Linked DNA regions of Homo sapiens. The protein of the gene in region 3 purifies or fractionates together with the protein of the main gene of each other region. This does not show direct contact. Each region holds a gene or a part of one and is shown on either strand. Other genes may lie near its edges.

Region 1 (3,500 bases), on a different chromosome or scaffold from region 3:
AAGGGCAGTTGTGAAAGGGGGGAGATGGGAAAAAAGCCTTGATGGCCAGAGGTACATTCTTATGAAGATCAATTTTTGGAAAAATCTATATGTGGAACTGAGTATCTGGAATTTGATTCTCTCTTGACTGACCTTTCTCAGTGTACTCCTTGACAGTGTTCCTGTTTCCCCAGGGGCGTGCTTGTCCCAACTGAAGGCCACTGGTATAATGGACTCTTTGTAGTAATTGGCTACACCTTTCTAAAACAAGTGGTCCCGTTTAATTAGCTACCTTAGGGTGAAATGAAATGTAGGGAACGAGTCTAAGTCTTTCTTGATGGTAGCTCTCTCCTCTTATTTCTGCATTTATTAAGGTATAAGAACTCTTTGCTCTCATGTGACTTAAAATCAGCAGCTGGAAATATTCTTGTTGCAAGATAAGTGATTAAGCCTCAGGAAAATACCTTGCTTTCTAAGGTCTGTCTGGCCTAAAATACCCTTGTAGCTGCTGTTGGGTTCCAAACAAATGGATGAGGAAAAAGGGTTAGGCCAGATTAGCATGAGGCAGTTTTGGGGAAAAGACAAACCCTTCTTTTGTATGTATGTCTGTGTACCCAGGTGACATGTACAGCCATGATGGGAATACTGATGAGCCAGAATGGGTAAAGACAGAGCGAGAGCAGTTTGTTGAGTTTCGGGATAAGAACCGTGATGGGAAGATGGACAAGGAAGAGACCAAAGACTGGATCCTTCCCTCAGACTATGATCATGCAGAGGCAGAAGCCAGGCACCTGGTCTATGAATCAGACCAAAACAAGGTAAGTCTGGCGAGGCCCACACGCTCTATCCTTGATTGAAGTATGCTTCTAGGGGATCACCTGAACAGTTTCTGTTAAGGTGCATAGAGCATTTAAGGTCTTAATTAGTCTAAGTCAGCCAAGTATCTGAATCTGGCGATTAAAACCTTTCAGGGCAGCACTAGCTATCTGATCTCATTTTAGAAATCCTTTTGCCCAGTGCTGATAGCATTGTAGGAAATTTGGCTTCAGAAAAGAGCCTTTGTGTGTAGCCTGTGCCCAGCATGCATCATCAGGTATTTTTAGATCCCCAGGAATTTTTTTTTTTCTTTGTTACTTCATTTGTTCCTTTACCTATTACAGGCCCATTCTGTCTACTCAAAGCTGGTTGTTTCCTTCTTAAATCAAATAGGCTTTTTTAAATTGGGTCCTTTGTATGGGCTATAAATCAGCTTTTCTCTGGAGCCTGTTCAAATTGTCCTTGATCAATTAATTATCTGAGGTATTTTGTTAAAAGTATTGTTGTCCCTAAGCCCAGTCACCTGCTTCAGAGATTACTCCTGCCCTGCTTGGAGTAAGCTGAAAATCGGTCTAAAGATGGAGATTTTCAGTGTTCTGAGTATATTTTTGTCTAAGCTAATCTTCAATTTCAAATTCAGTTTTTTATTTTAGAGCCTTTTTAAGTGTTGATCTGCTTTAAGTTCTTGCTCAAAGTCACTTTAGTAGCCAGGTGTTGTGTCCTGAGATGTATGAGAAAAGGAAATGCATGTAGTCATCCCTATCTAGGAGATGTTCCATATTTTCCTCTAAAAGGAGAGTTTTCTCCTCATGAAACAAACCTTTATCTCTAGCATTGAGTTGTTGTGTTATATTCTTTCCACCCTTCCACTTTTAACTTTCTTGATAAAAGAAATGTTTAATTGGCCTGGCACGATGGCTCACGCCTGTAATCCCAGCACTTTGGGAGGCCAAGGCAGGCGGATCACCTGAGATTGGGTGTTCAAGACCAGCCTGACAAACATGGAGAAACCCCATCTCTACTAAAAATACAAAATTACCTGGGCGTGGTGGCGCATGCCTGTAATCCCAGCTACTCGGGAGGCTGAGGCAGAAAAATCACTTAAATCACTTTAACACGGGAGGCGGAGGTTGCGGTGAGCTGAGATCGCGCCATTGCACTCCAGCCTGGGCAACAAGAGCGAAACTCCGTCTCAAAAAAAAAAAAAAAAAAAAACAAGGAATGTGTAATTGCTGTTTTCTTCCCTCTTCGTATGTATGTAGGGGGAATGAGGGCTGAGTAGTTCACACTTAATTTAGTAGAAATGAGAATCTTAACTTCTGATTAACCCCAATTCTTCTATAACAGTGTTTCTGAATTTTTAATGGGAAATATGTTCTTCTTCAATTCATTGCTATCTCTACTTTCAGGATGGCAAGCTTACCAAGGAGGAGATCGTTGACAAGTATGACTTATTTGTTGGCAGCCAGGCCACAGATTTTGGGGAGGCCTTAGTACGGCATGATGAGTTCTGAGCTACGGAGGAACCCTCATTTCCTCAAAAGTAATTTATTTTTACAGCTTCTGGTTTCACATGAAATTGTTTGCGCTACTGAGACTGTTACTACAAACTTTTTAAGACATGAAAAGGCGTAATGAAAACCATCCCGTCCCCATTCCTCCTCCTCTCTGAGGGACTGGAGGGAAGCCGTGCTTCTGAGGAACAACTCTAATTAGTACACTTGTGTTTGTAGATTTACACTTTGTATTATGTATTAACATGGCGTGTTTATTTTTGTATTTTTCTCTGGTTGGGAGTATGATATGAAGGATCAAGATCCTCAACTCACACATGTAGACAAACATTAGCTCTTTACTCTTTCTCAACCCCTTTTATGATTTTAATAATTCTCACTTAACTAATTTTGTAAGCCTGAGATCAATAAGAAATGTTCAGGAGAGAGGAAAGAAAAAAAATATATGCTCCACAATTTATATTTAGAGAGAGAACACTTAGTCTTGCCTGTCAAAAAGTCCAACATTTCATAGGTAGTAGGGGCCACATATTACATTCAGTTGCTATAGGTCCAGCAACTGAACCTGCCATTACCTGGGCAAGGAAAGATCCCTTTGCTCTAGGAAAGCTTGGCCCAAATTGATTTTCTTCTTTTTCCCCCTGTAGGACTGACTGTTGGCTAATTTTGTCAAGCACAGCTGTGGTGGGAAGAGTTAGGGCCAGTGTCTTGAAAATCAATCAAGTAGTGAATGTGATCTCTTTGCAGAGCTATAGATAGAAACAGCTGGAAAACTAAAGGAAAAATACAAGTGTTTTCGGGGCATACATTTTTTTTCTGGGTGTGCATCTGTTGAAATGCTCAAGACTTAATTATTTGCCTTTTGAAATCACTGTAAATGCCCCCATCCGGTTCCTCTTCTTCCCAGGTGTGCCAAGGAATTAATCTTGGTTTCACTACAATTAAAATTCACTCCTTTCCAATCATGTCATTGAAAGTGCCTTTAACGAAAGAAATGGTCACTGAATGGGAATTCTCTTAAGAAACCCTGAGATTAAAAAAAGACTATTTGGATAACTTATAGGAAAGCCTAGAACCTCCCAGTAGAGTGGGGATTTTTTTCTTCTTCCCTTTCTCTTTTGGACAATAGTTAAATTAGCAGTATTAGTTATGAGTTTGGTTGCAGTGTTCTTATCTTGTGGGCTGATTTCC
Region 2 (3,500 bases), about 21 Mb from region 3:
TGGACGATATGCACACGCCTGCCCATCCTGGGTGGAATCCTCATGTGCTTGAGAGTCTAACACACTTCCAATAATTCATGAGAAAGACAGAATCATAAAGGAACTTCTCACATACTTAGAACTGAAGAATCATAAAAATACTACTTAGCAAAATGTGTAGAATGTAGTTAAAGTTGATTGTATACAGGGAAATGTAGCCTTTAAAGACAGACTGGAAAGAAAGGCTGCAATTAATGAGTTGAGCTTCCAACTGAAGGACAAAAGAAGCCAGGCCTGGTGACTTATGCCTGTCATCCCAGCACTTTGGGAGGCGGAGGCGGGCAGATCACCTGAGGTTGGAAGTTCAAGACCAGCCTGACCAACATGGCAAAATCCCGTCTCTACTAAAAATACAAAAATTAGCTGGGCATGGTGGTGGGCACCTGTAATCCCAGCTACCAGGGAGGCTGAGGCAGGAGAATCACTTGAACCCAGGAGGCAGGGGTTGCAGTGAGCCGAGATCGTGCCACTGCACTCTAGCCTGGGAGACAAAGCAAGACTCCGTCTCAAAAAAAAAAAAAAAAAAGAATAAACCCGCAGAAAGTAGAAAGGTGATGATTCAGATTGAAGCAGAGACCAACAGACACCCACAGGCAGGAGGCAGAAGTGCTCAGTGGCTATTTGAAGAAGCTCCGTAATAGAGAGATGACCCTCAGGAAAACGCTTAAAACTCCTTCCTAGCTACCCAGAGACTGGACTTGTGAGGAGTTAGGACGCCACCTTTAGGAAGGGTTTCCCTCAGCTTTGTGGTGTAGCCGGCAGGAGAAAACCGATCTAAGAACTGTCTTCTGTCCTCTGTTTACCCAGGACTTGTTCTTTAAGTACACCTGGAATAACTTTTTGCACTTCCAAGTGGAACTATGCATAGCCGCTATTCTCTCCCACGCTGCCCGTGAGGAGAGGACAGAAGCCAGCGGATCCGAGAGCAGGGTGGAGCCTCCGCATGAGAACGGGAACCGGAGCCTGGAGACTCCCCAGCCGGCCGCCAGCCTCCCTGACAACACAATGGTGACCCACGTGAGTCCAAGAAGCATCCATCTTATCAGCGCCAACTGCGCCCCACTCAGACCGTGTCCATGTCAGCGCTGACGTGTGCCGGACCTCACTGTGCAGCTGACACGGGGGCAGGGCTTTGAAAAGGGTCCCCAGGTGTCTGGTCAGACGCTCGTAGACAGTGGGGCTTGAGTGGGTCTTGCAGATCTCATTCCTACCTGCCTTCAGCAGGGGTACTGGTGCCTTCCACGTGCAGGCCTGGCAAGGGTTAGCACTGGATGAGATGAGTTCAGTCTGGCCTCCAGCTGGAGGCCCAGGGAATAAATGCCCAGGGAGCCAGCAGTGTCAGTGATGGGAGCCACACGGTGGGGAGGGGATGCTGAGGGACATGCAGGCCAACCAGGGACTGTCACCCGGATAGCAAGGCCACAGGTATATCGTAGTGTGAGGTGGAGCCCAGGAAAAACATCTCAGGTACAAGAAGTGATCTGTGTCAGGGCCTGGAGGTGAGAGAAAGTGCTGAGGGCAGACAGCCCTAGTCGTTCTTCCGGACACAGAGAAAGAGGGCAGGAGAGTGGCCAAAGTGGAGGGCAATGGAGAGACGGGGAGAAGGCCCAGGGGAAGACAGGGGTCAGGGGGCAATTCCAGGAGTTGGAGGAGAAGGGAGAGGGTCCTTTTCTCGGGCTTCATCTTTAGGGCGCTCAGCAGTATGAGCCCCGAACCGCACCCTCCTCTGGTGTTTGGTGAGGACCGCGGAGGCTGGGGCTGTGCGTGCGCAGCAGTCAGGGCCTGCAAAGTCCACACAGACGTGGCCGCCAGCCAGCCCTGCCCAGTCCAGGGATGGGTGGAGGGGTGCGTGCCGCCTTCAGACCCTGACTCACGCTGTCCCCCTGCCCCGCCCCCCAGCTGTTCCAGAAGTGCTGCCTGGTGCAGAGGATCCTGGAGGCCTGGGAAGCCAACGACCACACGCAGTAAGAGCCGCTCGGACGTGGAGGGACCCAGCCTGGCCAGTCAGGGATGCAGAGACGCACCTCACCCAAGCCCTGGTGACGCTGCGTGCAGGACTGCAGGATCGGGTGGAGTGTAGGGTGTGCGACGTGGCTCCACGTTCTGGGGCTGCTGTGCAAGGGGCCCTTCTACTGGGCGGACAGCTGCAAATGCTACTTGGGGAGGGGACACAGGGAGCCGACAGGAAGCGGTCCCGTCCCCACCAGGCACCTGCTCTGGCCCCCGCCCAGCCTGGCTTTGCCCTCTTGTGGGTCCGCTGTCCGTTCCTGATCTTCCCCAGGAACTCGGGCCCTCCGTCAGCACTCGCACACAGGGACGCGTTATTTTGGTCTTTCCATCTTCTGCTTAATGGGTGCTCCCTCTGGTCAGGACACATGTCCCGCTTATTGTCGTGGGCCCAGAGCCATCCCCACCCGTTTGCTGTCCTGCTGGGAACTGTCTGGCTCTGGGCGATATGAGGAGGGACTCCAGGGAGCTGGGAGGGGTCTGAGTGCAGCTGTGGGGAAGCAGAGGCCGAGCTGGGCTGTACAGCATGGAGGTCCCGCCCAACCCTCCCCTTGGGGTGCTGAGCCTGAGCTTGGTAGCTGGCAGCATGGGCTCACCTCCTGCGCCACTGCTGCCACCAGCGGGACTTAGGCCACGCCACGGCCTTTCTGCCTCCATTTCCCTGTCTGTAAAATGGAGTGAGAGCAGTGTCTGTTTCCTCATCTGTCTCAGTGGCACTTTTGGTAGTGAGGTTGGGGTGAGCCTGCTGCACGTGGCAGGTGCTACTCAAACAGAAGTGTCCTGGAGGAGGGCAGGGGGCGCGGACACTGGGCAGGGGCCGGGCATTTGCTCTGGAGGTGAACCTGGAGGAGGGCAGGGGGCGCGGACGCTGGGCAGGGGCCGGGCATTTGCTCTGGAGGTGAACCTGGAGGAGGGCCGGGGGCATGGATGCTGGGCAGGGGCCGGGCACTTGCCCTGGAGGTGAACCTGGAGGAGGGCTGGGGGCGCGGACGCTGGGCAGGGGCCGGGCATTTGCTCTGGAGGTGAACCTGGAGGAGGGCTGGGGGCATGGATGCTGGGCAGGGGCCGGGCACTTGCCCTGGAGGTGAACCTGGAGGAGGGCTGGGGGTGCGGACGCTGGGCAGGGGCCGGGCATTTGCTCTGGAGGTGAACCTGGAGGAGGGCTGGGGGCGCGGACGCTGGGCAGGGGCCGGGCATTTGCTCTGGAGGTGAACCTGGAGGAGGGCCGGGGGCATGGATGCTGGGCAGGGGCCGGGCATTTGCTCTGGAGGTGAACCTGGAGGAGGGCCGGGGGCATGGATGCTGGGCAGGGGCCGGGCATTTGCTCTGGAGGTGAACCTGGAGGAGGGCCGGGGGCGCGGACGCTGGGCAGGGGCCAGGCATTTGCCCTGGAGGTGAACCTGGAGGAGGGCCGGGGGCATGGATGCTGGGCAGGGGCCGGGCATTTGCCCTGG
Region 3 (3,500 bases):
GTCATCTGGCCTTTCGTTGGTCCTCAGCAGCTGAGGGGACACTTCCAGCTTCCCAGAGTCTTCCTCACCATGGGCCCAAAAGTGGACTTTGTGTACACCTCCAGGTTTCTATTTCATGTCAGACTCTTCCAAACTTCCTTCCAAATTTAGTGAAAGGCCGGGAGTGGTGGCTCACGCCTGTAATCCCAACACTTTGGGAGGCTGAGATAAGCAGATCACTTCAGGTCAGGAGTTTGAGACCAGCCTGGCCAATGTGGTCAAACCCCATCTCTACTAAAAATACAAAAATTAGCTAGGTGTGGTGGCGCATGACTGTAATCCCAGTTACTCTGGAGGCTGAGGCAGGAGAATCACTTGAACCCGGGAGGCGGAGGTTGCAGTGAGCCGAGATCGTGCCACTACACTCCAGCCTGGGCAACAGAGCAAGGCTCTCCATCTTGGAAAAAAAAAAAACAAAAAAACAAACTAAGTGAAACTCTTCCAGCCATACCCTGTGGTGCTTTAAGAAATCAAGACAAGCTTCTTATTTGGATAACCATAGAGAAAAAGCACATGGCCCAGCAAGCACCGCGACAGTCACAAAGCTCAACTTTGATGGCAATGATGGTGTCAGTGACTTTTCCATAATGCGTGTTATGAATTGTGTGCTTTGAAAAACACTGTCACTTCTGATGAAGTTCGGTGCCCCTGCGAGCCTGGGGCTCCACTCCAAGCTGGGCCCTGCTGGCCATGTGCCTCCTGCCTCCCACACCAGGCCCCTTGGCTGGCCTGTCCGTGGTGAGACCCTGGCTCATGCCTGTAATCCCAACACTTTGGGAGGCTGAGGCAAGATGATTGCTTGAGCCCAGGAGTTCAAGACCAGCCTGGGCAACATAGCGAGACCTCGTCTCTACAAATAATTTTTTTTTAAATTTGCCATGTGTGGTGGTGCATCCCTGTGGTCCCAGCTACTTGGAAGGCTGAGGCAGAAGGATCGCTTAAGCCCGGGTGGTTGAGGCTGCATGAGCCGTCATAGTACTACTGCATTCTAGCCTGGGCAACAGAGCAAAACTCCATCTCAAAAAAAATAGGGAGGGGTCCTAGTGAGACCCTGGTACCCACCCCGTCCCTGTCTTCCTCTTCAGATGACCATGCTGACTGTCATAGAGCAGCCAGTACCTCCAACACCAGCTACCCCTGAGGACCCTGCCCCGCTCTGGGGTCCCCCTCCTGCCCAGGGCAGCCCCGGAGATGGAGGCCTCCAGGGTGAGTGTCAGACTCAGACTCCCCTGTGGGAATGAGCAGTGGGTTGGGAATCGGGGAAGTGGGATTCTGGTCCCCACCCTGTCGCTGACTCCCAACTTAACCCTCTAGTGGGCCTCAGTCTTCCCATTTCCCGTTTCTTAGACCCGCCTAAGAGGACCGTCTCCTGGGACTCCTGAATGCTGCAGTCCCTGGAGACCAAGCAGCCCCAGCAGACCCTGCCTGGAGGTCGGGGGGAGCTGGGAGTGGGGATTCTGGATGAGCCTCCCTCCTCCAGGCCCAGCAGGGACACTGACCTCTGCCTACCCCCCCCACCCCAGGGCTGCCAGGAGCCATAGAGAGTGTGAGGGTCCCGCTGCTTCCCCGAAATGGTAGATGCTGGTTGGGGGGCTGGGGCCAGGGTGGGGGTCAAGAGCAGATGTGGAGCTGCCAGTCTGATATGCTTTACCCCCCAGACCAAGTCGGTGCTTGGGGGCTTCCCGGGCCCACCGGCCCCAAGGGAGATGCCGGCAGTCGGGGCCCAATGGGGATGAGAGGCCCACCAGGTGAGTGCCCGCAATGCTGCCCCACAGCTCCTCTGGCCATCCCCTCCACCAGGTGGGCCCTTCCCTGCTCCTGACATGGCCAGGATGACCTGGGCCCTTTCATCTACTTGCCTCTTCACTCAGCACCCCACCACGGAGTGCCCTGCCCACGCCTGGGCTCCATGAAGTCCTCTCTTATGTTCACTGACCCACATTCCCTGGGCACCTACACTTATCAGGCTCTGAGCTGGGCACTGGGTGGGGTCAGACATGTCCCTGCCCTTCTGGAGCTTCCATGCTGCTGGGAGCAGGGCTGGGCAGAGGAGAAGCAGCAATGCTTGCCCCATGTGACCAGGGTTTCTATGAGGGGTTTTGGGGGTTTGGGAGCCCCAAGGAAGGAAGACTCAGCCTGGACGAGGTGGAGAACTAGGTGCTGTGCTCATCCCCCTGTTAGACTACCAGGCAGCCTAGGCCTGTGGACTCCGGGGCCCTCTCTCATGCCCACTGCTCCAGGCTGCCTTGTCCTGTCGCTCAAGGCCACCCTGGGCCTCCTTGCCTCCTGTATACCCACAAATCCGTGTGATTCCATTGCAGGTCCACAGGGCCCCCCAGGGAGCCCTGGCCGGGCTGGAGCTGTGGGCACCCCTGGAGAGAGGGGACCTCCTGGGCCACCAGGGCCTCCTGGCCCCCCTGGGCCCCCAGCCCCTGTTGGGCCACCCCATGCCCGGATCTCCCAGCATGGTGAGTCCCCCTGGGATCCCAGCAGGTGGAGGTGGGGGTGGAGTAGCCATCAGCACAGTGCCCGCTACCATCTGCCACGTGCCTTCTGTGTGCCAGCCCTGCTCACGATAGGCCACATGTGACCCAGTCCTCCAGCAGGCGCCGTTGTCCTCCTGTGGTTACAGGTGAGGAACACTGAGGACCAGAGAGGGAAGGTGGCTTGCCAGGGTCCCACAGCCTGGGCGTAGGGGAACGGCTTCAAACCCAGGCTGCCTCCAGAACCTGTGCTTAGAGCCACCGGGCATCAGGCCCTCCCAAGCCTTGGAACTGGCTGGAATCCAGTTCTCGGAACACTGGGACGCAAAAGACCCGGCGGCAGGAAGTGAGTCCTGAACTCCCAAGGCCACAGGCCCGGCCCCTCCTCCAGGCCCTGACGTGCGTCCTTGGCTTCTTCCCTTTGGCAGCCCAGCCTGACCTGCCCATGGGCTGCCAGGGGTCAGAGTGTGGAGCGCCAGGTTTCAGCCTCTTCTCCACTGTGTTTTTGGTGCACAACCCAGCACACCATTCATTCATTCTGCCATCCCAGCATTCATTCCATCTCACTATCCATACGATGGGGACAATGACAGTGCCAGCCTCCCAGAGCTGCGTAACATCCATGTACAGAAGCCTGGCACACAGTAGGTGGTGGATAAATGGTATCTTTTATTGTCATTCCCATTTGACAGGTGACAGTACAGGCTCTGAAAAGTAGAAAGTGTTGCTGGATGTCACCAGCTGGATTGCAGTGGGGTTAGAACCCACATCTCCCTGCCTCCTGGTCTTGCGGGACCAACACTCTCCACACTCCTCACCCTGGAGCAGGTGCCCAGGTGGTACCAGCCATGCTGCAGGCTGCCCCATAGGGCAGTCCAAGCTGTCTTGGCAGAGGTGGCAGGTGAAGACTAACCACCCCACTCTACCCAGCTCTACTCACTCATCATCTTTGCTCACCCAGGAGACCCATTGCTGTCC
Region 4 (3,500 bases), on a different chromosome or scaffold from region 3:
CAAGTGGCACTTGGCAAAGTCAGGTACAGGGAGAGGAGGAAAAGCCGAAACACGCAGGCTCTGAAGTCTAACCCTGAACTTCCTTCTCTCCCACGTTTGCTTCCCATTGTCCACTAGAACGTTCTGATTGAGAAACTCCCATTTCAGATCAAGGGAGGACCAACTAGAATGAAACTAACAGGACGGGCGCAGTGGCTCACACCTGTAATCCCAGCACTTTGGGAGGCTGAAGTGGGTGGATCACTTGAGGTCAGGAGTTCAAGACTAGCCTGGCCAAGATAGTGAAACCACATATCTACTAAAATTACAAAAAATTAGCTAGGCGTGGTGGCACACACCTGTAATCCCAGCTACTCAGGAGGCTGAGGAAGGGGAATCACTTGAACCTGGGAGGCGGAGGTTGCAGTAAGTCAAGATCACACCACTGCACTCCAGCCTGGGCAACAGAGCAAGACTCTGTCTCAAAAAAAAAAAAAAAAAAAAAAAAAGAAAAGAAAAGAAAGAAAGAAAAAAGAAAAGAAAATAAACTCTAACAGTCTGAAAAGTAAAGCTAGTGATAAGGAGGAAGGGAAATAATGATAACAAAAACAAACACACAGTTTGCTATGTGCCAGTGTGGGAATACCCCAGACATTTCACATCTATTAACTCATTTACTCCTCAGGACAATCCTATGAGGTTAGTACTACAATCTCTATTCACAATGAGGAAACTAAAGCACAGAGAAGCTAGTAAGTGATAAGGCTGAAATCGAACCCAGGCACTGTGGTTACAGGCTCTGCCCTGAATCACTAAGCCATGCTGCCTTTTTGTGCAAAGCATAGCACCAGGGTTGTCAGTGGACCTTGATGAACTCTCAACAACCGTAGCTAAGAGTTATTACCTCTATTTTACAGTCTTAGAAGGACTAAGTGCCTCACCCAAGATGTCACAGAAGATTACTTACACTTATAATAGGCAAACTGCAAGTAATGATACATGGTAGCCACAAATTTCTCAACCGGATAGCCTCCTATAACTGGGGTGAGGTTCTCTTCACACTGTATTTTGCATTCCAGAACTTCTACATAATGATCTGAAACAAAACATATAAATTTTCAGAGCAGTGGATCCATTACTTTCTTAATATGCTACTGCCTCCTGCCCAAATGAAAAAGTTAAAAGAAAAATATTTACAGGCCGGGCGCGGTGGCTCACGCCTGTAATCCCAGCACTTCGGGAGGCTGAGGCGGGCGAATCACAAGGTCAGGAGGATCGAGACCATCCTGGTTAACACAGTGAAACCCTGTCTCACTAAAAATACAAAAAATTAGCTGGGCGTCGTGGTGGGCGCCTGTGGTCCCAGCTACTCAGGAGGCTGAGGCAGAAGAATGGCGTGAACCCGGAAGGTGGAGCTTGCAGTGAGCCGAGATCGCGCCACTGCACTCCAGCCTGGGCAACAGAGCAAGACTCCGTCTCCAAAAAAAAAAAAAAAAAAAGAAAAAGAAAAATATTTTCAACACCTACAAGGAGCTGAAAATCTTTAATATACAAAGTTGTTTCAAATCAATATGAAAAAGATGAACATCCACTATATAAATGGCCAAATGATATTAATAGAAATTATTAAAATGTCTAAAAAACATTGAGAGACACTACACCTCTTTTGTAATTAGGAAATACAATTACCCCCAAAATAATTTAAACTACCAAATTGCAAAAGTTTTACAAATTCATACTGTAGTATTAAGAAGAGAACAGTGAAACTTACACTCTCATATTCTGTTGATGGAAGCAAAACAGGAACAAACTTTTTGGAGAACAATTTGGCAAAATTTATCAAAGGTTAAAATACACATATTTTCCAACCCAGCTGTCTACTTCTAGGAAATTTTCTTTAGACACAGGCATACATAAACACTGTTTATAACAACAAACAAACAAACTTGTAAGTACCTAAATGCCAATCAATAGGATGAGGATTAATAAATTACAGTATATAAAAATAACAGAATCTACACAGCCTTTGAAAGAGAGTAAGGTGAACCTAAATATAGTCAAAGACTACAATTCCCATGCAGCTAGGTTGGGGCCATATGACTAGTCGTGGCCAATGACATGTTGAGAGTAACAATTAAGGAATGCTACTTCCAGGCCTAATCCCTAAAATCTCCCACATGATCCTTGGCTCCCTCCCTTTTCTCCCTTTATGCAGCTAGAAGCAAAAGACTCCAGAAGGGTTGCACACATTTCATAAGACTGTGGAGGAACAGGCACTTTCAAACATTGCTGGTAGGAAGTACAAAATGATACCTTAAAACACTAAAATTAATTTACAGAAACATTTACTCTTTGAACTATTATTTCCACTTTGGTTGACTCTGAAAACACGCCTCCATACTTACTACCATCACCAACAAAAAAGCCTTACATACTTACTACCACCAACAACAAAAAATTAACATCAACAATAAGGGTGCAAACAAACATCATACATATCTTGACGTGATATCCTGAGGAGGACATTTATATAGCGGTCCAGCCAAAAATACACAACCTGAATGTAACTGTGAAGACACATAATAGAAACCCAAATTGAGGAATGTTGACAAAGTAATTAGCCTATATTCTTAAAAAATATCATTGGCATAAAAAGACAAAGAAGGCCAAAGGATTGTTCCAGATTAAAGAATTCTAAAGGAAGATGACAAATAAATAGGAAGCATGATTCTGAACTGGAACCTGTACCAGGAAAAAAAAAGGTGCTAGAAAGAACATTATTGTGACAATTAACAAAAAGAGAATATGAACTACAGATTGAATACAAGCATTGTATCTAGTATATTAAGTTTCCTGAATTTAATTACTATGGATATTTAGATAATATTATTGTTCTTAGGAAATAAACTGAAGTATAATGGGGTAAAGAGTAATAATGCATGTGCAACATACTTCCAAATAGTTCTGAAATAAAAATAATTATACAGAGCTGGGTGCGGTGGCTCAAGCCTATAATCCCAGCACTTTGGGAGGGCAAGGCGGGCGGATCACTTGGGGTCAGGAGTTTGAAACCAGCCTGGCCAACACAGCAAAACGCTGTCTCTACTAAAAATACAAAACATTAGCCAGGTGTGGTGGCGCCTGCCAGTAGTCCCAGCTACTCAGGAGGCTGAGGCAGGAGAATTGCTTCAACCCGGCAGACAGAGGTTGCAGTGAGCCAAGATCGCACCACTGCACTCCAGCCTGGGCGACAGAGTGAGACTCAGTCTCAAAAATAAAATATAATAGGCCGGGTGCGGTGGCTCACGCCTGTACTCCTAGCACTTTGGGAGGCCGAGGTGGGTGGATCACCTGAGGTCAGGAGTTCGAGACCAGCCTGGCCAACGTGGTGAAACCCCGTCTCTACTAAAAATATAAAAATTAGCCAGACGTGTTGGTGCATGCCTGTAATCCCAGCTACTCGGGAGGCTGAGGCAGGAGGATTGCCTGAACCTAAGGGGCAGAGGTTGCAGTGAGCCGAG

What was found. The genes of interacting proteins can lie anywhere in the genome.
Region 1: the proteins of EMID1 (region 3) and CALU purify together in Homo sapiens (affinity purification with mass spectrometry; one large-scale study listed by BioGRID and IntAct). This does not show direct contact.
Region 2: the proteins of EMID1 (region 3) and PPP6R2 purify together in Homo sapiens (affinity purification with mass spectrometry; one large-scale study listed by BioGRID and IntAct). This does not show direct contact.
Region 4: the proteins of EMID1 (region 3) and CRTAP purify together in Homo sapiens (affinity purification with mass spectrometry; 2 studies listed by BioGRID and IntAct, with this or other methods). This does not show direct contact.

The regions. Positions count from the first base shown.
Region 1 is NC_000007.14:128,766,859-128,770,358, forward strand, and holds part of CALU (calumenin isoform a precursor), read left to right. Parts: intron 1-597; coding exon 598-797; intron 798-2,204; coding exon 2,205-2,309; 3' UTR 2,310-3,500. UniProt on the Homo sapiens protein: Involved in regulation of vitamin K-dependent carboxylation of multiple N-terminal glutamate residues. Seems to inhibit gamma-carboxylase GGCX. Binds 7 calcium ions with a low affinity.
Region 2 is NC_000022.11:50,430,327-50,433,826, forward strand, and holds part of PPP6R2 (serine/threonine-protein phosphatase 6 regulatory subunit 2), read left to right. Parts: intron 1-846; coding exon 847-1,056; intron 1,057-1,938; coding exon 1,939-2,003; intron 2,004-3,500. UniProt on the Homo sapiens protein: Regulatory subunit of protein phosphatase 6 (PP6). May function as a scaffolding PP6 subunit. Involved in the PP6-mediated dephosphorylation of NFKBIE opposing its degradation in response to TNF-alpha.
Region 3 is NC_000022.11:29,229,896-29,233,395, forward strand, and holds part of EMID1 (EMI domain-containing protein 1 isoform 1 precursor), read left to right. Parts: intron 1-1,124; coding exon 1,125-1,245; intron 1,246-1,386; exon of another isoform or gene 1,387-1,421; coding exon of another isoform or gene 1,422-1,470; intron 1,471-1,562; coding exon of another isoform or gene 1,563-1,613; intron 1,614-1,697; coding exon 1,698-1,787; intron 1,788-2,360; coding exon 2,361-2,507; intron 2,508-2,671; exon of another isoform or gene 2,672-2,868; intron 2,869-3,483; coding exon 3,484-3,500.
Region 4 is NC_000003.12:33,127,514-33,131,013, reverse strand, and holds part of CRTAP (cartilage-associated protein isoform 1 precursor), read right to left. Parts: intron 1,076-3,500; coding exon 947-1,075; intron 1-946. UniProt on the Homo sapiens protein: Necessary for efficient 3-hydroxylation of fibrillar collagen prolyl residues.